2 separate regions of the Homo sapiens genome follow, and region 1 is linked to region 2. Evidence: fine-mapped expression QTL. A gene starts in region 2. The other region holds a variant in brackets. All regions are shown on one strand. Distances are between the middles of the regions. Region 1 overlaps LOC102724943 (splicing factor 3A subunit 2). Region 2 holds the start of LINC02236 (long intergenic non-protein coding RNA 2236).

Region 1 (15,708 bases), 17 kb before region 2:
CCACAGAGACATAAACAGACGAGTGGTTCTGAGGGGTGGGTGGGGTGGGGCGTGAGGCAGGGAGAAGAGGGAGAAGGTTCTGGAATTAGATGGTGGTGATGGTCACACAAGGTGGTGAATTGAACATACTAAAAACCACTGACTTGTACCTTTTAAACTGGTGAATTTTATCCCAATGAAAAAAAAACACCTTGTTCCTCCTTTGAGACCCAGCTCTCGCGCCCACTCCTCCAAGAGCCCGGGGTGTCTCTGCACCTCATTCATATCACTGGTGTGACTTTTGTATCTTGTGCTGTGATGTGGACAGCAGACCCTTCTCCCTTGTATGTTTAACACGCGTGTTGTGGTGTGGTGTGGTGTTGGCTGCTCAGGACACACCCTGTCGTCCACCGCACTCGGGGAGTTTCCTGCGTGACACTGGGGTCAGCAGCGTGGTTGGAATCTGGTGATGGAGCTGGTCCCTGCCCACAGCCCCCGCCACATCAGTGGCTTTTCCCGCAGCTCCCCACAAAAGGATGTGCCGCCTAGCAGAGATGAGAATCAGGTTTTCTTGTAAGAAAGAGTTGCTGAAGGAAAGCCGGTCACGTGCAGTGATGTTGTGAAAGAAAGTGATGACAAGCTAAAAAAAGAAGGACACTGAGAAAACATTATTATCAGCAGAGTTTATCTGGGCCAGATTTGGGGACCCCAACCCCAGGATGCTACCTCAGGAGTGTTCTGAGTTGCAGCGATTACAAGCAGATTTTTTAAGGACAAAATGAGGAGATGTGGCAAGGTGGTCCCAGCCCCTTCACCTAGAGGGGCCCTTGTTGACAGAGGTGAGCTGATGAATGATCAGTTGAAGACTCCCGTGCTTCTGGGAATAGTCATTGTGAGCATGTGGTCAGCCCGGTTGCTAGAATTCTTCCCATGAGCAGGTGGGGTCCAGGAACTTCAGGGGCTGACTGTGGCCTCATGCCCAGTACCTTTAGCCATTTTAATTTACCAAACCTCATTGTCCCATTCTCTTTTCAGGTTCTTGGCCATAAAATATGGCTTTTGGAAAAATAAAGCTGAGACTTGGAGTTCACGGTGGGGGCTCCCCCATCTGTGAACAGAAGCAGAAGTTTGGAACTGCCTTCTTTACTGCTCGAGAGGGAAAACTTGAGTGAAAACCAGGATGCTGGCGAATGTTGAGTAGCTAAGCTGCACAGGAAATACCACTTGATGACCTGCGATCTGGGGAAGCCGCGCCAGGGCTCTGCGAAGCTGCGGACGAGGGAGGCGTCAGTGTGGGGGCTGCAGCTCAGCTCCGGGGGGGACGCGCCTTTCTCCACGGGACCTGGGGCTCAGGTGCTCACGAGGCTGGGGCGCTGCAGGCCACCCGCAGGGGAAACTGAGGCCCTCCATTTTGTGGGGCTGGAAGACCTTTCCTTCCAAAAGCAGGTGTAGGCGGGAGCACCTGTGCAGTCCCTCTGTTCAGATCCTCACCCACTTTTAAATCAGGTAATTGCTTTTCTTGTTATTGCATTGAGTTCCTTATGTATTTTAGATATTACCCCCAAGAACATTTATTTTAAACACTAGCTAAAGCTCTCGTAAGAACTGATGTCTTATAAGGTAAAATACTGGTTTAAGAAAGAAGTTGATAAAGGGACAGCACCAGACAAAGAGTGGCAGCACCAACAACCAGTGCGAGGGCTCCGTTCAGAAGGATCTGGATGGTCGCCTGGACGTGCTGCCGTGTCATGTCTTAGGTGGTTAGTCAATCCACATGATGGTTTTAAGTCAAATTCCCAGCTTTGGGACCAACCCTATCCCCCACGGCAATCCAAGAAACCCGATCCAGGACTCTTTCCACTGGGAGTTGTCAGAACTGTGTCTTCATCCAAGACAATTGGTTTCCCATACTCATACTTAGAGGGAACCCTGGCCCCTTTAAGGTGGGGCTCCCTCAACTTGGGACTCGTTACTCCTCAGTTCAGCTCCCCTGCCATTGCTGGCCTCCTTGACAGAGTTCAGAGGATGCGGCTCCATCCTTCTCCCTCTGTCCCAGCTTCTTGTATGTGAAAACAAACCAGGGAGGCTGGAGGCCCTGAGTACATTTTTTTGAATTCTGGGCAGCAGCGTCGGTGGCCTCGGTGGTGCACTGTGTTCAGGTGGTTAGCGGTCATGCTGATCTGTGGTGATAGTGCTTGTTGGCACCACAGTGAGAGTTCATGCTCTCGCGTGTTTCAGAGATGGTGGGAGGTGCCCACAGGCAGGTGAGGAAACATCCTCCCTGGAGAAAAAGGCAGCAGGAGAGCATCAGGAAGCTGGCAGAGCTGTCTGCTTCCACTAATCTTTACTATTGAGAGGCCCTGGCTCATTATACAAATTGGGCACACGGCAACAGTGCTGGGATCAAAGGCAGTTGTATTCTGTCATCCCATGGCATCGCCGGGTACCCTTCATTTTACTCCTGAGGCTGTAACTTGGACAAAGCGCTTTCTGCTGCTTTGGATGAAAAATTCTTTTCCTCCACAGGAAACAGCAGATGAAATGCACAGTGTGAAGGACAAGGATTCTGCTGAGAGAATTGCTCCGAGGGTTGCTCAAGTGATCATGGGAAATAATGCATCAAACCATTCTTTAGGTATTTTTTTAAATTAGGAGGTAAAAAATCTGTGCTGTTTGCCAAAATGATTCTTACACAGACAAGCTAGGAAAATTGCTCTGAAACATGACACAGACTCCTGATTTGGCCCAACTAGGGTGTGAAGGATGAAATCCATCCTGAGCCCTTCATCCCTCTGCTTTCTCTGGTGCAGATGCAGCTCAGGTGTGCCTTTTCTTCGCCTGTGCCCATCCACCTGAGATGGACCATAACCATAAAAGTCAGAAGGCACTGACCCTTCAGGACGTGACAGGGTTAAAAGATGCTGGAGGGAAAGTCTGTCATTGACTTTTATTCACTTCCTTTCTCCATTCTGCCATTTGGAAGAAGGTAAGCAACTTAACACTATTTTAGACCATATGTTGTAAACTAGCAGGAAAATGCCTTTGAGCTGATGATGGTGGCCCGAACACAGTGAACCTGTCTTAAATCCCTGCTTTAAACCCTTAAGGGTGTCACTTACAAGAGATACTATTTGAAGTCTTCCCATGCATGTGTAGGGTGGGGGGAGTACCAACAGCTCATCGAATGGGCTCCATTTGAAAGATCTGGATGGTTGCCTTTATTTGTAACTAGTTTCTTTTCTTTTTTTTTTTTTCCTTGAGATGGAGTCTTGCTCTATCACTGGGCTGGAGTGCAGTGGCGCAATCTCAGCTCACTGCAACCTCTGCCTCCCAGGTTCAAGCGATTCTCCTGCCTCAGCTTCCCGAGTAGCTGGGACTACAGGCATGTGCCACCACACCCAGCTAATTTATGTTTTATTTTTTAGTAGAGACAGGGTTTCACCATGTTGGCCAGGATGGTCACGATCTCCTGACCTCATGATCTGCCTGCCTCGGCCTCCCAAAGTGCTGGGATTACAGGCGTGAGCCACCGCGCCCGGCCGTAACTAGTTTCTTAGATGACAGCTCAGTCCACAGGATTGAGTTAAGTCAGCTTCCCAACTTTGGGGCTGATCCTGTCCTCATGGCAACCTAAGAAAGTCCACCAAGGATGTTGTCCATTGGAAGTTGTCAAGACTTTGTCCTCATCCAAGACAATTAGCTTCCCATACTTATATAGAGGGACCCCGTCCCTATCCCCAAAGTGGCTTCACACTCCTTAACTCAGCTGCCTGCCTGGAACAGAAGGAGAGTTGCTGGCCTCACTGACAGAGCATGGGGCTGGTTGACAATTCTAAAAGCCTGGCCTGTTCCTCTGATTGGCTACTCAGATAGGAGAACCAGAGCAGTAGCCCAGGCTGATAATCAGGAACCTGGGGCCCTGGAGTTACCTGCTGCTCCTGGTGTCTGCTAGAGCTCCCTAGACATCTTTTTAGATGGAGGTCTGTGGCTCAGTGTGCCATCACGCTGTCCTGTTGGCTGCAGTCTCAAGCTGGGACAGAATGATCAGACTGAATGCTTGTGTCTTCCCCAAACTTGTATGTTGAAACCTAATCCCCAATATCAGTGTGTTTGGAAGTGGAGCCTTTGGGAGGTGGTTAGCTCATGAGGGTGGAGCCCTTATGAATGGGATTAGTGTTTTTGTTGTTGTTGTTGTTTTTGAGATGGAGTATCACTCTGTCACCAGGCTGGAGTGCAATGGCGCGATCTCGGCTCACTGCAACTTCCGCCTCCCAGGTTCAAGTGAATCTCCTGCCTCAGCCTTCCGAGTAGCTGGGACTACAGGCACGTGCCACCATGCCCAGCTAATTTTTGTATTTTTAGTAGAGATGGGGTTTCACCATGTTGGCCAGGATGGTCTTGATCTCTTGACCTCATGATCTGCCCGCCTCAGCCTCCTAGAGTGCTGAGATTACAGGCGTGAGCCCCCGTGCCTGGCCTTGAATGGGATTAGTGTTTTAAAGAGGCCTGAGAGAGACTCCTGGCCACTTTTGCCTTATGAGGACACAGTGGAAAGGTCCCATCCCTGAACCAGGAAATGGGCACTTACCAGACACTGAATCTGCCTGCAGCTTGACCTTGAACTTCCCAGCCTCCAGAACTCTGAGGAATAAATTTCTGTTATGTGATAAGCCATTCAGTCTGTGGTATTTTGTTATACCAGCCCAAACGGACTAAGACACAGAACATAGCCTGTGCCTCTTCCAGTTTCTTCAGGATCCTTCTGGGCTCAGAGAATGGAGCTAAGAGGAAGATTCTACCATTAGGGCTGGTCTTCACCTGTCTCTTAAGACTGATGGGCTCCCCATTTGAATGACATTGATCAACCCGACATTAACCCATTGGGTATGGCTGGGGCAGCTCCTCTTATCTGTGAGGTGGGAACCAGGTTGGTAATGTTGCATCCTGTTAGCCAGGTTCCTAGTTCAGTTTAGCTGTTGTGCAGGTCAAGGACTCTTAAGGATTGAATTGCATCCCTTCAAAAGATATTGAAGTCCTAACCCCCAGAATCGGTGACTGTGACCTTATTTGGAAATGGGTCTTTGCAGACACAATCAAGTTAAGATGAGGTCATATTGGATTAAAGTGGTGTGTAATTCAATAGATGATCTCTTTAATGAAAAGGGAAATTTGTACTGAGAAACACAGAGGGAAATGCTATGTGAAGATGGAGGCAGAGATTGGAGTGATTTGGAGCAATGTGTATGTCTGCAAGCCAAGGAACACCAAGTATTGCCAGCCATCACCAGAGCTGGAGGAGGGGCCTGGAACAGATTCCCACTAGAGCCCCCAAAAGGATCCAACCCTGCTGACACTTTGACTTTGGAGTTGTGGCCTTCAGAACTGTGAGAGAATTAATTTGTGTTGTTTTGAGCCACTCAGAGTGTGGTATTTTGTTATAGAAGTCCTTGGATACTAATAAAGACATTAATAGCCAGATCGGAGGCACCCCCTCCAAGGCCTGAGAGAAGGTTGTTTTATGGAACCCTGGTTTAGTAGCTGGGACCACAGATGCGTGCCACCATGCCTGGCTATTTTTTTAAATTTTTTGTACAGATGGCATCTTGCTGTGTTGCCCAGGATTCTGGCTAGGGACTGTGGTTGCAGGTGCTGGGGCTAATGAAAATGGGCAAGAGCAGAATAGCACAGTAACATCTATTCTCTAAATCGACAATCTTTTCCAGACTACGGTTTAAGAATCTGTGCCCGATGAAGCTGAAGGGGGCCTCAGAACTGGTCTCGTGGTCCTCCTCTCAGCTCTGAGGTACTTGTGGCTTGTGGCAGAGCCGCTATGGACGTCGCTGACCTAGTGGTCAGTGCATACATCTGCAGAAAGGTCACTCTACATTCAAGTGAACCAATAGAGTGTCTAGAAATCTCAATTCATGGTGTGTGGGGGCAAGATGCCCATTCTGACCCTTTAAGGGGGCATCAACATTTCAGAGGGTGGTAGGAGTGGTGATGAGTCCTCCTTAGGGTGAAAGTTCACCCCTTTGGGCTACTAGAGGGCAGTCATTGGTATAATTTCTCTATTTTAAGCATTCTGATGTTTGATTACAACTTACCCATGGAAGGCTGAGTTTGTAGTTACTGAACCTTTCCAAGGCTGGGTAGCGTGCCTTCTCTCCCGAATGCTATGGAGTTCTACAGTGTGCCAGCATCTGTTTCTGTAGCTCCTTCTTTCATCACTGATGGACGTTTAGATTGTTTCCAGTTTCTACTACCACAAACAGTGCTTCAGTGACCATCCTTAGCTGTGGCTTCTTGTGTATGTGTGAGGATTTCTTCAGAATCAGGTCTCCACCTTGGACACTGTCCATATATTGGGCCAGATAATTATTTAGTGTTGGGGGTGCTGTCCTGTGCACTGTAGAACGCTTAGCAGCACTTAGCAGCATCCCTGGCCTCCACCCACTAGGTGTCAGTAGTGTGCACTACTTATCACCACCAAAAATGTCCCCACATGGTGTCAAATATCCACTGGGGGAAACATTGGCCTTCCCGCCTGTTCAGAACCATTGGGATAGATGAAAAATGTGAGGCGGTGTTTTTTTTGTTGTTGTTTTTTGTTTTGTTTCGTTTTGTTTTAAGACAGGGTCTCGTTCTGTCATCTAGACTGGATCACAGTGGCATGATCACAGCTCACTGCAGCCTCAACCTCCTGGGCTCAAGTGATCTGCCCACTTCAGCCTCCCCAGTAGCTGGGACCACAGGCGTATGCCACCATGCCCGGCTATTCTTTTTTTATTTTTTATAGAATGGCATCTTTGCTATGTTGCCCAGGCTGGTCTCAAACTCCTGGCCTCAAACAATCCTCCTGCCTCAGCCTCCCAAAGTGCTGCGATTACAGGCATGAGCCACTGTGCCTGGCCAAGAGTGAGATTTATGAATCAAAAGGTGCTATGATTTGAATATTCATCCTCTCCCAAATTCCTGTTGAAATTTAGTTTCCACAATGGCAGTATTAAGAGGTGGGACCTTTAAGAGATGATTGGAATAATTCATTCATGGATTAATGGATTAATGAACTAATAGATTATCATGGAGTTATAAGAAGAAGAGAACTTGAGCTTGTACTCCCAGCCCCTCGCCATGTGGTCTCCTGGGCCAACTCAGGACTCTGCAGAGAGTTCTCCATCAGCAAGAAAGCTCCTCACCAGATGTGGCCCCTTGACCTTGAATTCTTCAGCCTTCATAACTGCAAGAAATAAATTTATTTTCTTATAAATAGCCCAGTTTCAGGTATTCTGTCATAAGTAACAGAAAAGGGACTAAGACAAAGGGAATGCATGTTGAGTGTAATACACATGCTGAACAGTCATACAGGGGCTGGGCACATTCCACACTCCTGGAGGCAATGTCTAATAGACATTCGACACCATCACCATACTTACAAGCCATGCTGATGGCTGAGACAGGGCGAATCATTTAGTTTTGGGTTTGATTTTCTTAATTATTACCTAAACGTCTTCTCATGTTTATTAGTCATTAGAATTTCATTTATTATGAGTTACCTATTCAGTGTCTTTGTCTGTTTGTCTATTCTTCTTCTTATTGATGTTCAGAGAAAATATCCAAAATATTTGACAACCATGAGGGCACTGGATCTTCAAATGTCCAAACACCTGCCCCCATAGGATGGACACCAGCTGTTTACACCAACACAGGAGTCCTGGGTGCGGTGAAAGAACATCTGCCATGTGGATTTGTTGCTGTTCTTAATTTACTATGGAAATTAGCCTCTTGCCTGTGATAGAAATCACACGTATTATCTCTGAGTAGTCCCATGTCTTAAAGCTTTGTTTGTTATTTAAATTTCAAAGTAGACAAATTGAGATGTCTTCTCTTCCTTTATACATTTTATTTTATTTTATTTTTATTTATTTTATTTTATTTTCAGATGGAGTTTCGCTCTTGTTGCCCAGGCTGGAGTGCCATGGCAAGATCTAGGCTCACTGCAACCTCTGCCTCCCGAGTTCAACCAATTCTCCTGCCTCAGCCTCCCAAGTAGCTGAGATTACAGGCATGCACCACCACGCCTGGCTAATTTTTTTCGTATTTTTAATAGAGACAGGGTTTCACCATGTTGGTCAGGCTGGTCTCGAACTCCTGACCTCAAGTGATCCACCTACCTTGGCCTCCAAAGTACTGGGATTACAGGCGTGAGCCACCACACCCAGCCTATACCATATTTAGAATGTCTTTTCTACCTTAACATTCTCTTTTATGTTTTTTCCCTTATTGGCATTTTTTTTTTTTTTTGTATTTAGGACTTTAATTGAGGTGAAACATATTTTCTGATGAATGCTGTACTGGTAGGGATTTAACTTGCCAATGCCAAACTTCCAATGCCAAAACCATAGTAGCGGGTCAATTTAACAATCGTTATTTATTCTTGAATGAACAAATAAATGAGTTTCTAGGCTTTATCTCTCCACGGATGGTGTCGCCCCTTCCTGAATTGGCACGTCCCTGTACCTTTTAGGAAGTCTGGTAGGGTGCACAACCATCCCTCTTCATTCTTTTCCTTTAAAGGTTCTGACTATTGTTACATAGTTCCTCTTCCATATTACTCTGAGACTCAGCTTGTCTAGTTCCATTAAAATCTTTGCACTGCTGAATCTTTTCATTTTTGAATACAATAAATCCCACAACATAGTCAGGTCTTTTAAATGAGTTTGTCAGTAAGGTTTTATAGTTTTCTCTGTAATCTTGAACATTTCTTGTTAAGTTTCTTTCTCGGTTTATTATAGTTTTTTTATTATATATGAGATTTTTCTATGCATTTCTAATTGGTTCTTTCGGATGCATAGGAAAGTTAATGGTTTTAAAGATATTGATCTTGGCTGGGTGCTGTGGCTCACACCTGTAATCCCAGTGCTTTGGGAGGTCGAGGCGGGTGGATTGTCTGAGGTCAGGAGTTCGAGACCAGCCTGACCAACATGGTGAAACCCTGTCTCTACTAAAAATACAAAATTAGCCGGGCATGGTGGCAGGTGCCTGTAATCCCAGCTACTTGGGAGGCAGGAGAATTGCTTGAACCCAGGAGGCAGAGGTTGCAGTGAGCCGAGATCACGCCATTGCACTCCAGCCTGGGCAACAGAGTGAGACTGTCTTAAAAAAACAAAAAACAAAAAACAGAAATATGTATATATCTTGTCTAGCACACTGTTCATAGCCAGTGTTTAAAATATGACACCTTGTTTAAGTGCTATTTTCTAAAGACAGTTGTGTAGATTTTTAAGAGGCAGTCGCAGTGGTTCATTTTATATGTTAACCTGACTGGGGCAACGAATGCCCAGATAGCTGGTAAGACAGTATTCTGGATGTGTCTGCAAGGGTATTTCTGGAAGAGATTAGCATTGCAATCTGTAGCCAAATGAAGATTCCCTTCCCCCATGTGGGCAGGCATTGTGCAATTCACAGAGGGCCCAAGTAGAAAAAAAGGCTGAGAAAGGGGGAGTTCATTCTCTGCTGGAGCTGGAACATCCATCTTCTCCTGCCCTCTGGTATCAGACCTCCTGGCTCCCTCCCTTTCCCCTACCTCACTTCTCAGGCCTTTGGACTCAGAGACTGAATCACATCACCAGCTTTCCTGGTTCCCTGGCTTGTAGATGGCAGACAGTCTGACTTCTGGGCCCCCAGAATCACATGAGCCAATTCCCATAAAAAATTTTTCTCTCTCTCAAACTCTCTTCCTCCTATGTATGTAATATATCCTATTGATTCTGTTTCTCTGGAGAATCCTGATTAATACACGGTCTGAACTCAGAACATCACGCGTGTCCATACAGTGAAGAGTGTTGCACAAAGTGGCAGAGTGAATGGCACAAGCAGCCAGAAATTGCTTGTCCCTGGGAAAGAGCTGGAATGAAATGCTCCCCCAGGCTGGCCAACTGTGCTGTGGCTACCTGGGCCTCAGGGGAGGAGGGAGCAGTGGAGAGAACCAGGGCCCTGTGAGCAGGGAGGTCCAGGTTTCCTCCAAAAGAGGAATGTGGAGGCAGAATGGAGATCACATTGGGGCTGTTGCTTCCAGCTCTTCTGGAATCTGGAAGCACTCAAGTTGGTGGCTGTGTCTGGCTAAGGTTTCAGATGAGCTAAGAAGCGGAAGACAGTCCACTGTTGCCAGTCCCTTTAGAGAAGGAGGGAGCCAGGCTGAGAGGGCAAATCTACTGACCCAGGACAGCTGGAAGCTAGGGAGGGACGAGCTCCCGTGCATCGCAATAGATGCAATGGACGTGACGTGCAATCATCGGAGTCAGGGTTTAAGGCTGGGCTGCTCCACCTCTTCTGAGTGCTAAGAATCCCCTGGAATGTTTTCTAAAAACGTGGTTTCACTCGTTTGATCCTAAAGATTATGATGCTGGAGTCTGGGGGCAAAGCTCAGAGCTCTTTATTTTTAACAAGCATCCCAGGTAACTCAAAAGTAGCAAATACTGGTTTAATGTGCATTATCTTTGACCATTTGCAAGTGGGTTCTTAAGTTAACATAGTAAATTGAAAGATGAGACAGGTGCGACACATTATTCAGGGAAACCCTTCTGTTTCAAAGAATGACTGCTTGGCCCATCTGACTTGTGGTGGTAAAGGCAGGAAGATGAAATAAAGCACCCAGTGTGTGCAGTGTTTAGCATGAATGAAGTTAGAAGGAATGAAATCTACGTACAATTTGCCTACATAGCAGCTGCATGAAAGTGAGCTGGCTTGTGATACGGCAGCTTAGAAATAGGGCAGCTTAGAAAACCAGATTGGTGGGGGCAAGCAGGTGAAGGGAGGCCGGGGGTCCCCCATGACCTATACTTCCTTTTCCCTTTGCAAGCCCTAACCTGCTGCTCCTCCAACCCTTGACCAAGGGAGAGGATGGGCTCCCTGGGGAGGGCTGAATGAGGGTGGAGCATGATGTGTGTGTGTGTGTGTGTGTGTTGGGTGGATGTGTATATGTGAGGTATGTTGTGTGCGTGGTGTGTATTGTGTTTGTAGTGTGTTTATGTGTGCTGTGTGCTCTATATTGTGTGCATGAGCATGTGTGCATGTGTGTAGTATGGTGTGTATTGTGTATATGTGTGTGTTACGTATGGTTTGTATTGTGTATGTAGTTGTTTATGTGTGGTGCGTGCTATGTATTGTGTGTATCAGCATATGTGCATGTGTGTAGTATGGTGTGTATGTATGTGTGTGGTGTGTATTGTATATGCAGGGTGTGAATGTGTGTGTGGCATATTGTGTGTGTATGTATGTAATGTGTGTGTGTGTTGTGTGTGTATGTGTAGTGTCTGGTGTGTATTGTGTGTATAATGTGCGTGTAGTGGGCTGTGTGTGTGTGTGTTGTGTATGTAGTGTGTAAGGTGTATGTGAGTGTGCTTGTGGCATGTATTGTGAGTGTGTGTCTCTAATGTGAGGTTTGAAGGGCCTCACAGTTATGCCCACAAAGGTCACTTGGTCTTTCCTGGAGACGCCTCATGGGAGTTTTCACTGTGGCTTCCTGCCACTTGCTGTGGTCTTAAAAAAAGTAAAGAGAGTTACAAATCATTCCTTGTTTGCAGCATAAATTGCAGATGATAATTCAAATTCCTGCATCAGGTGGAAAGTAGCAGATTTAAAACACTGCAAAGAAGGGGCTGAGCAGTGAGACGGATGCTTTGGAACAATCGAGAAAGTAAGAGCCAGCTGTAAGGTTGCCTGCAGCCATGGAGCAATGAAGTGTCAAGGTCAAAGATCCCCCCAGGTCACGCAGTCCTGCCACTCTCCCTCCCTCTATGGCCCTGCGCACTTCCAGTGGCATAGCTAGGGTGGATGAAGGGGACACCTCTGACCACATCTCTCTGCCCTCTGACTCAAGTCCTTCCTGCTATAATGAAATCCCCCATGCTCCCTGAG[T/C]TTGGCATCTACTTAATCAAAGAATGTGGAGACTTAGTTCTCAGGAGGGCCGCTACTGAGTGGGTATGCCACTGGTCAAGAGGGTAACAGGAGACAGAAGACCCAGGAGGAGACTTTGGCCTAAATGGATCAGCAACACCACAGAGCATCCACTCCCCCAGAGCATCACCCGGAAGGACCATCCGTTCGGAGACATCCTGGGAGAACAAGAGGTTTCTTGTCTGACTCTAAAATTTATTTTATCAGTGTATCTAGGATTGGGCTGAGTTTAAACAGAAAACCTTTAAATAAGCACTATATGCCTGCTAGACATATTAATGCAATAAAAGAACCCTGTGTCTTGCTAAACTAAATTCTCAAAAGTTAACATTAAAAAATGATTCACGGCCAGGTGTGGTGGCTTACGCCTGTAACCCCAGCACTCTGGGAGGCCGAGGTGGGCGGATCACTTGATCCCAGGAGTTTCAGACCAGCCTGGGTAACATGACAAAACCCTGTCTCTACTAAAACTACAAAAATTAGCTGGACATGGTGGCACATGCCTGTGGTTCCAGCTACTTGGAAGGCTGGGGTGGGAGGATCACGTGAGCCTGGGAGGTCAAGGCTGCAGTGAGCTGTGATTGCGCCATTGCACTCCAGCCTGGGCAACAGAACAAGACTCTATCTCAACAAAACAAAACAACAGAACAAAACAAAACAAAAAAACCAAAACACACACACACACACACACACAGAAAGCGATTCACTTATTTTTTTCAATATAGACCACTTTTTAAACTTTTTACTTTGAAAAAAATAATGAATTCACAGGAAGTTGTGGAAAAGCACCCTGTGCCGTTTACTCAGTTTTCGTGATGATTACATTTTACATAACTACACTGCAATGTCAAAACCAGGAAACTAACATTGATACAGTGTGTGTATGGTTTTATGCCATTTTTTTTCTTAAAATTGTTTTTTCTTTTTAATTATCATGGATATACAAAGAAATGACATGCCATTTCATCACATGTAAATTTGTGGACGTTTTAACTTAGAGCAGGGGTCCACAGACTGTTGCCTGAGTGCCATATCCAGCTGGCCTCTGGCTTTTGAGAATAAAGATAAAGTCTCGGAACACAGCCACGCTCATTCATTTGCATATTGTTCGTGGCTGCTTTTCACTCCGGTGGTGGAGCTGAGTAGTTGTGTTGCTCGCAAAGCCTCAGATATTTCCCTTTTGACCCTTTATAGGAAAAGCTTGCTGATCCATGATTTAGAGAATCATTGGAATTTTTTTAATCTAAAAAAATCCTTGGGGTCCCTATAGTCTAGCCCTTTTATTTGATAGAGGAGGAAGCTAAGCTCAGGGCAGACAGAGGACATGTCCCAGGTCACACGCCAGTCAGCACCAAGTAAATCTATGGCCAGGGTCTCCTGACCTCCCTGCTGTTCTGGTCTCAGCAGGGCACTCAACTGGCCACTGGACCATTAAGCTGGATTTTATATTTTGAGCATGTTTGGGAGTTGGGCAGTTGGGTAAAGTAGTCCTCAACACAAATATTTCTTCTAAATTTCTTTTGTAGCTTGAATTCCACTGGGCAATCTGTTTGCTTATTTTCTTATTTGACTAAAAGAAAACGTGTGTCACAACATTAAAAATGGTGAAATGAGGCCATAGACCAGGGCTGCAACCTCAGTGTCCTCAGGCAGCCGATGTAAATGAGCGAAGCAGGAGAGGAACCTGCCCAGGGGCTGCAGGGCAGGGTGGGGACTGTGGCAAAGGGCATGCCCGAGGTGACCCAGCTCCAGTTCATTGTTCCTACATGTGAATGCAAGGCAAGAGTGGCCAGATTGGATTTTCAAGTGACCTTTTCTAATATTTAAATGTTAGCAACTACTTAAAAAATCCACAGACCCTGAGCAGTTCAACCTTGGCCCCAGGTTTCCCATTTACCACAGTTTACTCTTGGTTTGGCCTCAGGGATCTTATGAATTTGAGCCATCAGAATCAAGGGGTTGACTGAGAGGACAGGGATGGTGAAGATCCCCATCGCCACTCCAGTTCAATCTCTGGTGGAGGAAGGGTCATCTTCACAGGTGCGCCATGGCCCAGCGTTTCTACACGTGCTCACCTACCACTAGGTGAGCTCCCAAGGAAGCCGATGGCTCAGGCTGTACTGACCTCTCCCAGGGAAACAGTTGCTTCCCTGAGACCTTCTTACTAAATACACTTCCTACATACAAGAGCTGTCATACCCTCAGGTATGTAGGCGTGACCAACACTTAGTGTTCTCAGTAGGGGAACACTTGGTAGTACCAAAGACATTTTTGGTTGTCACAACTGGGGGCCTGCTGCCGGCATCCAGGGTGGAACCTGGGAATGCTGCTAAACACCCTACAATGTACAGCACAGCCCCCACCCCCAACAAAATACAATTTTTCTCTGGCCCCCAAACTCAATGGTGCCCAAGTTGAGAGACCTTGATCTAGAGCAATGAACCCGACATTTGTAGTTATCCAAGATGAGGTGCTCCAAAAAATCACGGGCCAGTGTTCAGTGAACATCGAACGTGGTTGGTGGGCTCTAGATATTCAGCCGAATTCAGGATTTCCTAACCTCCTGCTGCGGGTGATGCGTTCAGAGCCCATCAGGAAAGGTTGGTAGAGCGGAGAAACCTGGCCCAGAGGGATTCCGCACTGATACGGGCGCACAGGAGGCCGCACGGAGGAGGGAGTGGCGCCCCTAGAGGGAGCCTCAGGATGTAGCTCCTGAACCCCTTTAGAATTTTAATTCTCTAAATGAAAATGCCTATTATTTTTGAAAGGATTTGCTTAAACTTCTTATCTGAAAACAGTTACATTGCAGGGATCAATTTGTTGAAAGTGAAAGCAAAAAATCCAACACAAAGAGTAAACTGCCTCTTATCTATGTGTGAGCAGAATGCTGGAGGGGGGATTTGACTCTCCTGGCCTCAGTAGCGGCCCTTCTGAGAACTGTATGCCCAGTTCTGCCTGTCTGCAGGATTTCATCACACTGTGTGCAAGAAACCAAAGTGGGAGGAGAAGAGACATTTCGGTTCAGCCCATTTTTCCATTCTCACTAAGTTTGTAGTGTAAGAAATAATTGTAAATTTTTCTTTGACTTATATACTGCCAGTGAGACAAGGAAGTCATTTGAGGAAAATGTAATGGAAAAAGGAATTTCATCCATTTCCTCAAGAAAATCACTGTGTGTGTGCGTACATGCAGGTGCCTGCACTGATTACAGAAAATGTGTGAAAGAAAAAAAATCTTTCCATTGGAGCTTCAAATAAGCCAAATATTAACTGTTCACTTACTGGCTACTAACAACAGTTTTGGGGTTTTTCAAGGACGGCTGTCTGTTTGGAGGAGTAACTTTAATCAGTACAGCTGACCACGATATCAGCCATTAATTTCCAACATTAGCTTAAATCCTGTTTCTGATTATAAATATAATGTACATGTTCATTATAGCACACTTGGAACATACAGAACAATTATAAAGCAGAGTATCAAAACTACCTGGAATCCTGACATTGACAGATAAACCACTGTTAAGCATTGGTATATTTTAGGGCATGGCTTAGTAAACTATGGCCTGTTGGCCAAATCTGACCTGTTGCCTGTTTTTATAAAGTGTTCCTGGAACTCAGCTGTGTTCATTACTTTTTGTATGCTGTTTTCAAGATACAATGTCAGAGAGACCATGTGGTTGCAAAGCTTAACATATGTACTATCTGGCCTTTTATAGAAAAACGTTTGCCAGTCTCTGCTTAGGGAAGTCTTTATCATGTGTGCGTGTGTGTGCGC
Region 2 (15,311 bases):
GCAGCGAGGTGTTCACGCCTCACTGCCCCACTTCTCTCCTTCTCTCTGCAGCCCTGGCCACGCTTTCCCATCACCTCCTCCAGGTGGGTGCAGCAGCAGAAGGAAAGGCTGCTTGAAGTTGGTTCAAAAGAAAAGAGGAGGGGAGGAATGAATTTCTGGCGTTGAGACCTAGTAACTGTTTTCAAGGACATAGGATGGTTGCTGGAGGGGAGAAGGAGTATCAACAGAAGTCTATTTGGAATTTCTTTTTTTTGTGTGGGAAGATGCACGTAAAATAAAATTTTCCATTTTAATTATTTTTTAGGTGTACAAATTTATTAGCAATAACGACCTTCATAATATTGTGTACCCATCATTAGTATTTCCAAAACTTTTTAATCATCCCAAATGGAAATTCTGAACTCATTAAATAATCCCTTTCAGCTGCCTCTCCCCAGTCCCTGGAAACCTCTAATCTACTTTCAATCTCGGAATTCGCCTATTCTAGATATCTCAGGGACATGGAACTGCAGGAAACGTGCATGGATCAGGTGCAACCTGCTCCATCTGCTTGTTCTTCTATGAGGTAAGGGTCGTCCACCTACATAAAACAGAGAGAGGCTCTCTGAAAGCAAAGATGATTATCTGGGAAGAGAGCATTGCAATGGGAATATGCACATTTTAGTAAACTATGCCTGTATTCAGGGAGAGAAAGGAAGGCAAAGGTTTTTTGAGGGAAAAAAATGAAGAGGATTACTTCTTTTGATATAATTATGCTTGGCTACAAAGATCAACAGCAAGGGTGATAGCAGTCTGAGGTTGGACAGGCAGCTGCTGGACAGATGTCCTTGCAGAAGTGTTTTTTTTGTTTGTTTGTTTGTTTTTGCATAAGGTTGCAATGGTCTTTGAGCAAGGTTGTGATTTTTTGGGGGTTTTTGTTTTTTTGTTTGTTTGTTATCAGGCATATGGTTTTAGAACCCGCTGTTCATGGCTTCCCTGGCTCTATTTGTGAGAGTTTTCTTAACATCAGTGACTCTGTTTGGATTCTGAGAACTTTCACAGGACAGATGCTTTCCCAGTGGATGGGCTTGCAGATTTGGGGGTCAGTTGTTTCCGAGAAGGGGATGAGCTGCCCCTTTGCTCCCTTGCCTGAGCCGTCTTCTCTCACTCTGCATTTCCAGTACCGTGGCTGGGATCTTCCATCTTTATCCATCTGACTCCAGCAGCTTTTTCTCAGTTCCAAACTGGCCGGGGGTAAAAGTGAGTGTGATGAGCTCTCACAAACCCCAACAATTTAGTGCTTCACACCTGGCGGGTCCTCACTGAAAGATGGCTGAAAAAAGGAAAGGGTGAATGAGCAAAACACAGCTGTATTTTATTTAGTTTTCCATCTTTTATGATTTTAATGAAAGACTATCTAGAAAGCAGCAGAGTAGTTAATAACACACGTGGTCTCTGGAATCCGAAACACCTGTATCCAAACCCAGATGCTCTCTCTAACCTGTGAGATTGCTCAATGGGGCCGAGCCTTTAGTCTCTAGATGGTAAAATATTAGCAAATGGCTTGCACGTGTGATGTGCAAGGACTAAACAAGGCGTGCCTGTAAAGTGCTGAGTGTTCTGTAACTGGTAGGCACTTACTTTGTGTCACCTGCCCGCCTCCAAGGAATCTCATTTCCTAACTTGACAGCTGCCTCCCGGATCCTGCTTGGACAGATCCCACTAGGGAGGTCCACACCTGTGAGAGCGGCAAATGCATTGTTGTCGAGCTCTTCCTATAGGTAGAGGAAACCGAAGATGGGGCATAATGACTTCCTGGGAGTGGCGGGAAAGGCCCAGACGCTACCTGACATTATTTGTGGCTGCAGTTGAAGATCTGGGTGTGCACCTCCAGCCTGTGCATCGGGACTCATGGCGCAGCTGAGTCAAAGCCGTGCCTCTGCTGCCAGAACGGAGATCTTGACTAAATTTATCCTGAATTTCTTGCTGTGCCAGATCCATTCTGACTTTGAACTTTAAGAAAACAGCTCCTTGGGTTATGCAACTGGCACCACTGAATGTGAGCTGGGAGGAAGTGACAGGAAATCTTGTAAAGAGAACGGAAGAGCATTTCTCCCCAGCTCCGAGGCAGGTGGTGTTGGCAACTGCAGGCAAGGTGGGGGGAGTGGGTGGTGCGGCCCCCTCACCCTCACTGAGCCTCTCTTTGGGCTTCTCCTCCTCCCACATCCCCTCTGTGCTGAACAAAACTCACCACTCCTGGGCCCATTGCTTCAGGCTTTGCAAGGGGTCTGGCGGAGTAATCTGAAACAAATTTAAGCAAGATATGGGTGCTGTAATGATTTGATGCAGTCATTAGACTCACCTGGGGAGCTGGTAGAACTATTGATGTGGAGCCTCATTTCCAGAGATTATAAATTAATTAGGCTGGGGGTGAGCCTGGGTATCAATATGTTTTAAAGCTCTCCAGGAGGTTTTGCCGTGCAGCCAGGGCTGAGCTCCATTGATTGGAGGCATTGTCTTCCAGACGATATTTGCAACAGCGGAAGCTTGGGAGCCTCATTTCCAGATCTGTAAACTGAGGGGCTTGGCGTATATGATTTCCAAGATCTTCTAGTCCCAAAAAGGGTCATGATTCTGGTATTCCAGTGCCTTGAGCCAAGTGTCTTCCCATTGCCTGTGGGTTTCCTAATGGTGTTTGAGGCCACAAAAGCTTCCCCAAAATGGCATTATAATTTTGGCTGTGTTACATTAGCATCCTCCTACAGGGAGATTTATAAATTCCTATTGAGCTCATTTACTGATTGTTTTCCATGGGCCTATTTATCAAATGTACAGCCCCATGAATTTTCACATGCTAAATGCATCCATGTAACTAACCACCAGCTAGAGCAAGACACAGGATATTGCCAGACCTCAGAACACCTCTTTGGAGTTCTTTTCAGTCACTATCCCCTGCCCCTCAGAATAATGTTTACCCTGACCCCTCTGATATGGTTTGGTTGTGTCCCCACCCAAATCTCATCTTATATTTCCTATAATCCTCACATGTCATGGGAGGGACCTGGTGGGAGGTAATTGAATTATGGGGGCAGTTCCCCCATGCTATTCTTGTGATAATGAGTAAGTTCTCACAAGATCTGATGATTTTCTTTTTTTGAGATGGAGTCTCTCTCTGTCACCCAGGCTGGAGTGCAGTGGCAAGATCTCGGCTTACTGTAACCTCTGCCTCCCAGGTTCAAGCGATTCTTGTGCCTCAGCCTCCCGAGTAGCTGGGACTACAGGCGTGCACCATGACACCCGGCTAATTTTTGTACTTTTAGTAGAGGTGGAGCTTCACCACGTTGGCCAGGCTGGTCTCGAACTCTTGACCTCAAGTGATCGGCCCACCTCGACCTCCCAAAGTGCTGGGATTATAGGCATGAGCCACTGCACCCGGTTGATCTGATAGTTTTGTAAGAAGCTTTTCCTGCTTTTGCTTGGCACTTCTCCTTGCTGTCGCCCTGTGAAGAAGGATGTGTTTGTTTCTCCTTCCACCATGATTGTGAATTTCCTGAGGCCTCCTCAGCCCTGTAGAACTGTGAGTCAATTAAACCTCTTTGCTTTATAAATTACCCAGTCTTGGGTATGTCCTTATAGCAGCCTGAGAGTGGACTAATATACCCTGTCACTATAGATTGGCTTTGCTTGGTTTTGAACTTGACATACATGGCATCACACAGCATCTGCTCTTTTTTTTTTTTTTTTTTTTGAGATGGAGTCTCACTCTGTTGTCCAGGCTGGAGTGCAGTGGTGCGATCTCGGCTCACTGCAAGCTCTGCCTCCTGGGTTCACACCATTCTCCTGCCTCAGCCTCCTGAGTAGCTGGGACCACAGGCGCCCACCACCACGCCCAGCTAATTTTTTTTTTGTATTTTTAGTAGAGACAGGGTTTCACCGTGTTAGCCAGGATGGTCTCGATCTCCTGACCTCGTGATCTGCCTGCCTCGGCCTCCCAAAGTGCTGGGATTACAGGTGTGAGCCACCGCGCCCGGCCAGCATCTGCTCTTTTCTGTGTGGCTTCCTTCACTTAGCTATGCCGCTGAAACTAATTCATGTTGTTGCAGCCATCAGGAGTTCATTCTTTTTCGTTGCTGTGTGCTATGGACTGAATATTTGTGTTCCTCTCTAATTCATGTCTTGAAGCCTAAATCCTCATGTGATAGTATCAGGAGGTCATGAGAACAGAGCCTTTATGAATGGGATTAGTGCACTTACAAGGGGATGAAGAGACCAGAGCTCTCTCTCTCTTTGCCATGTGAGGATACAAGAAGATGGCCACCTCCAAACCAGGTGAGAAGCCCTCCTCAGACATGAATCTGCTGGCACCTTGATCTTGGACTTCCCAGCCTCCAGAACTGAGAAATAAATATTTGTTATATAATCTGTCCAGCCTATGATATTCTGCTATAGCAGCCTGAACTGACGTAGATACTGTGTCATACTCCATTGCACGGGAGATGTATCCTTTCTCTTGTTGATACACATTTGGATTGTTTCCAGTTTGGGGGTATTTTAAAGCTGCTAGGAAATTCTTGTTCTCATTTCTAATTTTTAGCAAGTAATATTAACTTGAATTTGTTTCATCAGACCTTTAAAATGCAGGTTTGAACATTTAGGAATATTGTACAGGGAATGGATCCACGAGACATCTGCTTGTTTTTGATGCAGTGTGAAGAATGCATGATCATTGCATTCACATTGAGTTGAGCTGGATGGTTGTAAAGATATGCTTGGCCACTACTGAATTACCTAAAAATTAATTCGTACCAGGCAGGAGCAACTGTGGCATTGCCAAGTCTCATTCCCAGCCCTCATGTCCTAGAAGATGAATGGGATGGAGCCAGAAGTGATGTGTAACATGGGATGGAAGCAGAAGATAGATTCCACTGCTAAAAACTGCATGGATTATGGGTGTGTATTCCATAATACACAAAGGTGACTCCACAGACTCTCAATTGTGCTTGTTGCTCAGGCCAAATCCTGCCTTTTGAAAAAATAGCATGCGTGTTTACAGATAAATTTTGAAAGCCCGTAGTTAAAGCTAATGACTGTATTATTTTCTAGATTTCTCCGGGCTTGTGGCTGTGTTGGGAAAAGTGGATGGGCCTTGACTCCATAAGCTAAGCTGAGTTACTTGTTTAACACAGGAAATGTGTGGAACATTGTTAGAAGCAAGAGCAGAGCTAAATTTTCTTCTGCTCCCCACACTTCTCATTGCTTCCATTACCACCCATTGAATGGGCAATGCTGTACCCCATGGTGTTGGCTTCTGATGATCTCGATCTACGACCCTTCCTCTTCGCTTAGATTTTAATTCTGAGATTGCCTGTATCTTGATCTGAGTAATAGCTCTCCAGTTCAAGGAGAGGGTATTGGAGTGGATTCCCTCAGCGTTGAGTTCATTGGGAACCATCCAAGGAGCAGCCACCAATAATCTCACTGTGCCTCCCAAGAGCATGGTTCTGTTGAGCACCTGCCAGGGATGGCATGGGGATGGCTAGGGCTGGGCATGGTCTAGCACACTCTTTATTCTTCTTTCTAACCCTTTCGCAGTTGAGAGCATCTTGAGGTTATCTGGCCCAACCCCGATAGCTCTGCATTTCATCTCTACTTGCACACCCACTGTGACAGAAAATTCTCCACTCAGCAAGGAGTAAATTGCATTTTTTTAGATGTCTAATTGCATTTCAAATAACAAGCTTCCGTTCTGCCTTCTGTATCCACACAGAGAGCCTTGTCCCTTTTCATGAGTTCCTTTTTGGACATTTTCAGCCAATTAAAAAAAATCTCACTTTCATTTTCTAAATTGTCTCCTATTCAAGTTTATCTTTCCCTGCTCTTTCTATTCCTTCATGGTAGGATTTCTAGACTCAACCTTCTGGGTAGCCCTTTCCTGGATGGATTACGAGTTTTTCAAAATAACTCTGTTAATGAATGTATAGTCTTCTAACCATATCACGCACACAATACACACACAAACACCTTTCACTTACTGCACAGTGCACATATAACACACATACAGTGCAACACAGACATATACCACATATACACCAAAGAATACACACACTACACACACCACGTAATACACTACAATACAATGAAACACAATGCCACATGTGCCACACAATACACACACACCACACATACATACACAACACACAGATATACACAAATATGCACAGACATCCCTCACACACACCAAATGCATATTACACACACTCACATACATAATAACACAGATCACCTAGAAATAAACACAATCACGTTATACATACACACCCCAAATACACTCCACACACCTTCCTTCCCTCAGTCCTTCTTTGTTTGCATCTCTTCAAATAATTGCAAACTCTCCTATCAAAAAATTGCAAGGCCCGTGAGAACATTAAAGATAATATATAACTGCATTGTGATGGGTAAAATAAATTTATGATGTTGGAATCCTATTTGTTCAGCATTCTAGCCATGAAATTGAAGGATGTCACACATTTTTCCCTTACTAAACCTGTAAATGAATCATCTAAAGATAATAAGTCATTTTTATGGAGTAAGACTGCATAGTGTTGCTTCACTTAAATTTAAAGATGATGTGAGACATAATGAATTTCCAGTTGTGAACACAGGTGCAGACACTCATCACAGTTTGAAAAAAATAAGTTCTTAATGGGATTCATGATATTCAGGTTATCTTACTAACTTCTCCAACTTCTTCCCTTTTTATTTACATTTTATTGTAAAATAAATCATAGACACAGAAAAATCCCACTCATAATAAATGTATAGCTTAGCGAATTATTTCAAGATGGAAGCCCTTGCAATGATAACTCATATCAAGAAATAGATCTTTGCCATTTTCCCCAAAGAATCTCCATATATATTGTCCATATTGCTAGTTTGAGTTTTTATAAAAAATCATGAATGAGTGTTGAATTCTGTCTAATGTTTTGCATTAACATGAAAGCATGATTTTTCCCCAGTTTTTTTCCTGATGATGTCATGAATTAGACTGATTGCCTTTAAAAGCAAAACTGTTCTTCCAGTCCTGAAATAAACCCTATTTCTTCATAATATGGTATCTTTTGTATATATCACTGAACTTACTATGCTAATATTTTAAAATAATTTTTGAGTATATGTTCTGAGAGAGATTCATCCATAAAAGTTGGGAAATATTTCCTCTCCTTATAGTCTTTTAATAGTCTAATATATTACTTGTTATTTGTTCCTGTGAAATGAAAAATCCACCTGTGCCTGGGTTTTTTTGTGTGGAAATATTAATAATAAATTCAATAATAATCTACTGAAAAAACTGAATAATAAATTAATTATTGTAAATTATATAATAATTTCTTTAATATATATCAGACTATTCACATTTTCTATTCTTCTGTTAGAATTGGTAAATTGTATTTGAGGAATTTATTGATGTAATCCAGATAGCCACATCTTCTGGAGTAAATTTGTTCATAATATTCTTCTATCTTGTTAATGTTTGTAGGATCTGTAGTTATAGTTCATTTTTTCTTTCTTATTAGGTAGTTAGTGTTTTATTCTTGTTCAATTTTCCTAAAGATTTATCATTTCAAAGCATAACTTTTGACCTTGTTGATTTTTAAAGATTTTTAAAAAAATTTACTGAAATTCTGCTCTGTTCTTTGTTTGTAATTTTCTTCCTTTTGCTTTAATAAAGCATATAAGGTTACAAATTTCCCATCTTCTGTTTCCATGATTTCCCCTCCTACTCCCCATCCCCTTCCTTCTCCTTTTTTTGATGGAGTCTTGCTCTTTCGCCCAGGCTGGAATGCACTGATGCGATCACGGTTCACTGCAGCCTCCGCCTCCAAGGTTCAAGCAACTCTTCTGCCTCAGCCTCCTGAGTAGCTGGGATTACAGGCATCTGCCACCATGCCCGGCTAATTTTTGTATTTTTAGTAGAGACGGGGTTTTGGTGTTTCACTATGTTGGCCAGGCTGGTCTTGAACTCCTGACCTCAAGTGATCTGCCCGTCTTGCCCTCCCAAAGTGCTGGGATTACAGGCATGAGCCACCATGCCTGGCTTGTTATCTGCTTCTAAGATTTCTTTTGAGAAGTCAGCTATTAATTTTTTTCTTTTTTTTCTCATTCCAAAGAAATGTGTTGTTTGTTTGGCTGATTTTAATATTTTCTTCTTGTCCTTGATTTTTAGAAAGCTGACATCGATGATGTATCTAGGTGTGATTTTCTTTATATTTATCTTGCTTGAAGTTTGCTGAATTTCTTGAATGTGTGGGTTGATGTCTTTCATCAGTTTGGAATGTTTTTAGTCATTATCTCTTTGAATATTGCTTCTCATTCTCTCTCCTCCCTGGTAATGCAATTATATATTGTTTAGACATTTTGAATATATCCCTTATTTCTCTTAATTTCTTAAAATCATTTTTTTCTTTTTAGTTTCTTTCCTTCAGTTTGGGTATTTTTCTATTGCATTGCTTTCCAGTTCACCAGTTTTATGTCCAATCTACTGTTAAAACTATTCATTGCATTCTTAATTTTGGATATTATGATTTTAGTTCTATAGTTTATTTAAAAAATAATTCTAATTCTTAATTGCAAATTGCCATTATTCTATTTATATTGCCTCTCATTTCCTCTATTTTCTTGAATATATTAATCATAATTATTTTAAAATAATTGTCTATTGTATCTAGAATTTGGGTCACTTGTGAACCTAATTCTGTTGTTTGCTTTTAAAAACATTAAAGCACATTGAGCCTATGGTCTTATCTTTTCACAGATCTAATAATTTCTTGTAAGCTGAATATTTTGTATAAAAGACTGTAGAGGTTCCAATGATGTTCTTTTCCACATGAAAGTGTTTTGTGTCTCCTCTCTAAGGCAGAGGAGGTTGATTCCCAAGGGCCAACCATTAGGGATTGGTGTAGTTTTGATCAGACTCAACCTACCTCTGTTCTCAGGGCTTTATCTGAGAGCTTGGAAAGTCTTTGCATCCTGAGTTCTGAATGATTGTGGGTGATTCAGCTTGGCCTTAGAGAAATTTAAGCTCAGCACTCACACTCCTGACCTCGTCACCTTCAGAATTTGGCAAAGGTCTTGATGGAGAGAATGCTTGGGTTGGATGCCCTACCCGCTAATTTTGTCCTTGACAAACACTAAAGTCTTTGCTTTGTTTTCTGTCTCCAGCAGCAGCAGCCTCTTGCCAGGGGCTGAGCCTTGATACCCACATTTGTCTGGTGCCCCCAAAAGAGTGGCTGCAGATCCTGGTGTCAATTCACAGGCTTTCATCTTGTGCTGGATTTCTTTTCAGGTTCCTTCCCTGGGAAGTTTTTTGTTTCCTAGTCACAAATATTGACAGAAATTTTACTTTGCCTTTCAGGAACTTTTAGCCTAGCTCTTTAGGCCTCCACTCCCCTGACTACTCAGCTAAAAAAAAAAAAAAAATCAAATGTCTTGTGGGTAAAATCAGCTATGCATTGCAGGGCCCTCACCTGAGATATGATTTGTCACCCTAGCCCTATGGCACCACTGAAAGCTTTTCTGGTTTTCCTTCCTCTAGCGGCGTCTTCTACCTGACCTAAATCTGATCACTGGGCTTCTATTTAACAGTACAGGAAGATGTTTCCAGGGAAAAACAGATGCCAACCATCATCTCCCTCTTACTGGCTTTTCTCTCTGAAAGTTTAGTTTATTTATTCTTTGTTGATTCCACATCTCTCCAATGCTTCGAAAATGATTTTTTATTCTTTTGTTTCTTAGTTCCTGAGATCAGGGGCATTGGCTGTTACCTACTACTTAGAAGTGGAAGTTTGGGGCACATGTTTTGACTTTCTTTTTCATAGTTTGTTGACTTGATTTGACATCAGTACACTCTGTACCCTATGGCAGGGAACCCCAAACCCCAGGCCAAGGACCAGTCTGGTATGGTCAGTGGTCTGTTAGGACCTGGGCCACACAGCAGGAGGTGAGAGGCAGGTGAGTAAGCGAAGCTTCGTCTGTCTTTATGGCCACTCCCCATTGGTCACATTCCCGCCTGAGCTCCTCCTGTCTGATCAGCAGCAGCATTGGATTCTCACAGGAGCTCGAACCCTATTGTGAACTGTGCATGCCGGGGATCTAGGCTGTGGACTCCTTATGAAAATCTAATGCCTGATGATCTGTCACTGCCTCCTATCACCCCCAGATGGGACCATCTAGTTGCAGAAAAACAAGCTCAGGGTTCCCACTGAATTCTACATTATGGTGAGTTGTCTAATTATTTCATTATATATTAAATGTAATAATAATATAAATAAAGTGCACAATAAATGTAATGTACTTGAATCATCCCGAAACCATCACCCCTGACCACAGTCCATGGAAAATTATCTTCCACGAAACTGGTCCCTGGTGCCAAAAAGGCTGGTGACTGCTGCCCTATGGAATCACTCGGGATTTAAAACTTTTACTTGTAAATGTTAAACGTTTTGCATCAGAGGCATCTTCAGTGGCCACAGGCTGGAACGTTTCCTCCTTAAGCTGAGTAGTCCTTAAAACAATGGAACCTGTGTAACTAACTTCATTGCAATTATAATGGAATTCTCAAACTTTGGGACACTTATAGCACAAATTTGGGGCATGATTTCTTAAAGATTCTCCATGCCATTGTAAAGTAATGGTGTGGCTAAAGTATCCCATCAGGGTCATGTCCTCATGTCCTTTGATTACTACAACTCCTGGCATTTAGGAGTTTTTTTTTTTCTTTTTTTTTTTTTAAGGCATGAAGGTGAAGGAGGGCTTCAACTGGGAGTTTTGAGCTTTTGGTGTGTGTAACTTACTAAGATTGGTGAGGGATTAAGTATTAGGCTAGGGAAGGAAGAGAGGGAGTCAGATGCAAGTCTTCCCAAGCTTTCTATGTTGATCCAATCAGTTTTCTTTTCCTTTAAGTTTTTTTCTCTCTTCAGGTGGATCATTGAGGCACCAGCATATGCCACTTTTGATTCTGGGTTCCACTGATAGACTGGATAAAGAAAATGTGGTACATATACACCATGGAATACTATGCAACCATAAAAAAGAATGAGATCATGTCCTTTGTAAGGACATGGTTGGAGCTGGAGGCCATTATCCTTAGCAAACTAACGCAGGAACAGAAAACCAAATACTGCATCTTCTCACTTATAAGTGGGAGCTAAATGATGAGAACACATGGACACATGGCAGGAACAACACACACTGGGGTCTAGCAGAGGAGGGCAGAGGGTGGGAGGAGGGAGAGGATCAGGACAAATAACTAATGGGAACTAGGCTTAATACCTAGGTAAGGAAATAATCTGTACAACAAACCCCCATGACATAAGTTTACCTACGTAACAAACCTGCACTTGTACCCCTGAACTTAACAGTTAAAAAAATTTAAAAAGGGTTTTTCTGTTTCAATTATACGTCAAGAAGAGCTGCTCTCATTACCTGTGTCACAGGCAAATGAAAGCTTTGTTTGATTACTTAAGTAATCCAGGAGAACATGTAACTCATCATTTTCAGGAAGGTGGTCAGTGAAGAGAAGAGGAAGAGAGTAGAAGCTTCTTTTAGGATGGAGGAGAAGAAGACAGTTGGAGTGGGACAAGTCCCATTTGATGGTGTGTGGTCGCTACAGCAGGTACAGTGAAGTGGCTCCTGTTTTGGAAATGAGGGAAGCTCCGATTCCCCTGAGAGAGTAGAAAAAGGTCAGGATGGGTGCTAATGGGATGCACTAGGTGGAGGGCAGCTGGGAAGCTACCTCTGTGCTTGCACAGTCTCCTCAGATGGGAATTATTTCTCTACTTCTGTCATATTTGTCTTGGTGTAACTGAACCCGCATCTTAAAATTCCCTGATTACCTCAGTTGGAAGTGAGTTCTCCTACATTTGCGCTCCTGAAACACGTGAGAATATTAGTTGTTCTGAATGAGCTGTTACTGTACTCACGGGTGGTACAGTTTAGAGAGGGTGACGTGTTTGTTATGAGTATGGGCTCTGGACCTAGCCTCCCTAGGCCCAAATCTCCGTTATCTGCTTTCACTCACTGGACCTAGGGCAAGTTAACTTTTCTCATCTGCAAAATGGACTAGATCTTGAAAGCAATGTCAGTGCATTTTGTGAGGATAAAACAAGTCACTGCATTTATTTGATTAATGTGTACAAAGCACTTTGAGTACACTGAGTACTCACTAATGCTAGCTGCTACATTTCCTACTAGTGTAATTGAACGAATACACACACTTAGAGTATATTACACTTTAAATAAACGTTATCGTATGTACTTGATTGTCACTATTTGGTGATAGAGACCCTGTCTTCCTTGCAGTGAAGGGCACCATAGTGGCTAAACTTAGAGTTACTTTAGAAAAACCAGGTGTTAGGGTGCCCCCAAGAGCATTGCCAGTGTGAGGGAACAGTATCAAAGAGGACTTCACAGATGACAGTTAAGGTTTCAGGTCCACATAGGTCTTAACTATAAATTGTGACAGCGTAAGGGCTGAAGGTCTGAGAGTGTGTGTGCTCACTAAGAGGCTAGGGGTTTCAAGTTTCCTGAAATAACTGCAAGAACTGCGCAACACAGAGAGAACCTACAGGGAAAGAAAGGAAGGGGCCGGGAGCTTGGACTCACAGTAAGGTCCTGGGATGGGGATTGAAAACCAAAAGCAACTGTGATGACACTCTGCTGCAGCTGGTGGGCAAAGCTGGGAAGAGCCGGAACCCTGGCTTCCTGTTCCACCTCCATAGGACCCATCCCTGCTGCTCCATGCCCTCTCTGAGGATCCACCAGTGCAAATGGTCATCTCAGCCTCCTAAGAGTCAGCCCTCTTGTGAATCCTCCTGCAGATACAAACAAGGCTGGGATGTTGCTTGCCCTTCAGTTGGGGGTTGTCTCAGGCAGAGGCCCTAAGGGATGGTGGTGACACCAGGCCAGACGGGAGAGCCTGGCTGTTTGCCTGAGAGTTCCAGCTTTGCCCCCAACAGCCATGAGACAGCTGTTCTCATGCCAAGAAAATGAATTTATACAGTGAAGTAAATCAAATTGTAAAGAACAATGTGATTAGAGAAAAAAAATCGTTTGTTATCTTGCAGTCCCCGGACATGATATATTCGTGGCCCAGGACCTTTTAAACAAAGAAATAATAAGAAACCATTTAGAAAAACAAATAAACTGGCAAATGTTTGTGAAATATTTATAAGATGCAGAGCCATTTTACATGCAAGAATTTATTAGCTAATTTTTTTTGTCTTGTGAAGGACTATTTTTGGAGACAATGAAATTGTTCTGGAAAAATACTTAAATTGGTAAGGATTAAAAACACACAAGAAAGCCAAGACTTTAATTACTATTATGATTTAGTTATATTTTTTGGGGAAAAATTATGCAAATCTATTTGTACTTTTAATCTTTTGTCAACATTTTCCCTATATTCATAAGTTATCCAACTTATCAAACAGAAAAAAGTCAGATGTATGAGGGGAAGAGATCTGGCTCAGCTAAAATTACTTGGTCTCTAACTCTGTGATGATGTGAGACCTTAGGAATCTCAGACTTGCTGTATTAGTGAGTAAGTAAAAATCCTGGGTTTTAGAACATTTAAAGGAAATGGTGTTTATTCTCCCTTATTCGTCTCACTTGGCAGTGGAATTATTGCAATTTCAGGGCAATGTACTTGAACAGTGATGTTGGCAAAAGGGAGTAAGAGTAGACAGGATAGTGAATGATTAGAAACCATTTTGCAGAGGGAGCAGTTGAAGGAATGGGGTTCTTTACACAGAGAGCAGAATACTGAGTGGGAAGCCATAGGCCAGCCCTCCAATGTATGATGGTTTCAATGTCCTCCTTCTTTCTCTGTCCTCTTCCCAGGAGGGGCGCTTGACCAGATGGGTGAGAGAGTGCAGAGCTTTGTGCATAGCAGTGCAGACAAGTCGTGCAATAGGGTGTGGTCAAAACGACCAAGAAACAGGATTGCGTGTCATGTGGGTGCTTCAGCTTGAGGAATCTGGAAATCCTAAAACATCCTTCAATTTTCCAGAGGACTTGAGATGTCTGTCCTTTTTGAGATGGACAGGTTCCCCTGAGAGCTGTCTCACGGTGGTCTACAAAGGGGGCACAGCAAGATGGACTTGGGAGTTTCTGTAGCTCTGCCGGCCAAACTCCAGCCAGGGGGAAGCCCATGGAAACTTGCTGGCAGTCCCAGCCTCTTAGAGTGATCCCCTGGGAGCCTCCCAGACTTTTTAAAGGGCGAGTTTGAGGAGAAGAAAGACATGTCGCTCCAAATTAGGCCACCAGTTTCTCTGCTAGTTCACTGCAACACTTTGTACATTTCCAGGTCATCTCTTACATACGCTGGAGATGTGTGATGGAGCTTGATGCTAATTAGCAGGCTAGATCTGTGATGTTTTTATTAAGTTGGGTCACAAAGTGTTCAATGCCTCTCTCTCTAGAATGATGATGCACTCATCAACCTGTCCTAAGTTCTGCGGCTTTAGCCAAAATTCTTAAAGAATAGGAAAAGTCCCACTTCACACCGTGTTCCATCAGGCTTTAACTGGTCACTGTACTGCTTGGTACAACACTCTGTTCATTTGTGTGAGTAAATAGAAGTAAGAGTCATTGAACTCAAGGAGATATAGCACTCTATTGAGGCTTGAGTCTTAGCAGGTGGTACCTTGGCAGAGAAGTGATTTCATTCTTAGAACTTTTAAAGGAAGTTTCTGGGAGAGTCACCTCTTGGGTGGAGGTTGGGTTTGATCTCAAGGACTTTGTGTTTGAGTTTATAGGACTCTGCCTAAGCAAACATAGAGCTGTCTAGCCTAAGTGGTGTTCTTTGATGCACACTGGGACTTTCTTGATCGGTTATTAAATGTAATTCATTGTTATAAATGTGCCCTTGACAAAAATGGATGTTCTTTAACTTTTGAATATAGAACTCTGTATCCATCCATTAGGGAAAGCTTGTCAATTGTATTGTTCAACTATTCTTGCTGAATTTTTTGTCTGATTGATGTATCAATAATTGTCATAGTAATCCAATATGATGGTGAATTTATCAAACTTCTTTCTGCAGTTTTAACACTTTTTGCTACATCTTGTGAGTGTTTTCTTAGGTCCGTACATTTGACAAAATTTCTTTTTGTCATTTCAATAAACTGAGTCTTTTCAAATTAATGTAATGATAATCTCTATCCCTAACTCTTCATTTTGTCTTAGTATCTCTTTTGTCTAGTATTGATGCAGCTGTATTAGCTTTCTTTCTGTTGGTAGCCATTTATGTCTTTTATTTCTTGAAACATTGAACC

Evidence for each region. PIP is the estimated chance that this variant, and not a neighbour inherited with it, causes the effect.
Region 1: its variant is fine-mapped to the expression of LINC02236 in blood mononuclear cells (TOPMed, PIP 0.90).

What each region holds. Positions count from the first base shown.
Region 1 is chr5:6,774,545-6,790,252 of GRCh38, forward strand. It overlaps LOC102724943 (splicing factor 3A subunit 2), which reads left to right. Exons shown (of 5, transcript XR_007059141.1): 3 at 1-1,485; 4 at 2,506-2,614; 5 at 2,790-4,653. Among named protein-coding and RNA genes, the nearest start is that of LINC02236, 13 kb to the right of the region's middle. The variant T/C (reference allele first, on the strand shown) is at 11,896.
Region 2 is chr5:6,791,417-6,806,727 of GRCh38, forward strand. It overlaps LINC02236 (long intergenic non-protein coding RNA 2236), which reads left to right and starts at 4,464. Exons shown (of 2, transcript NR_146281.1): 1 at 4,464-4,929. RefSeq lists an enhancer at 12,351-12,851.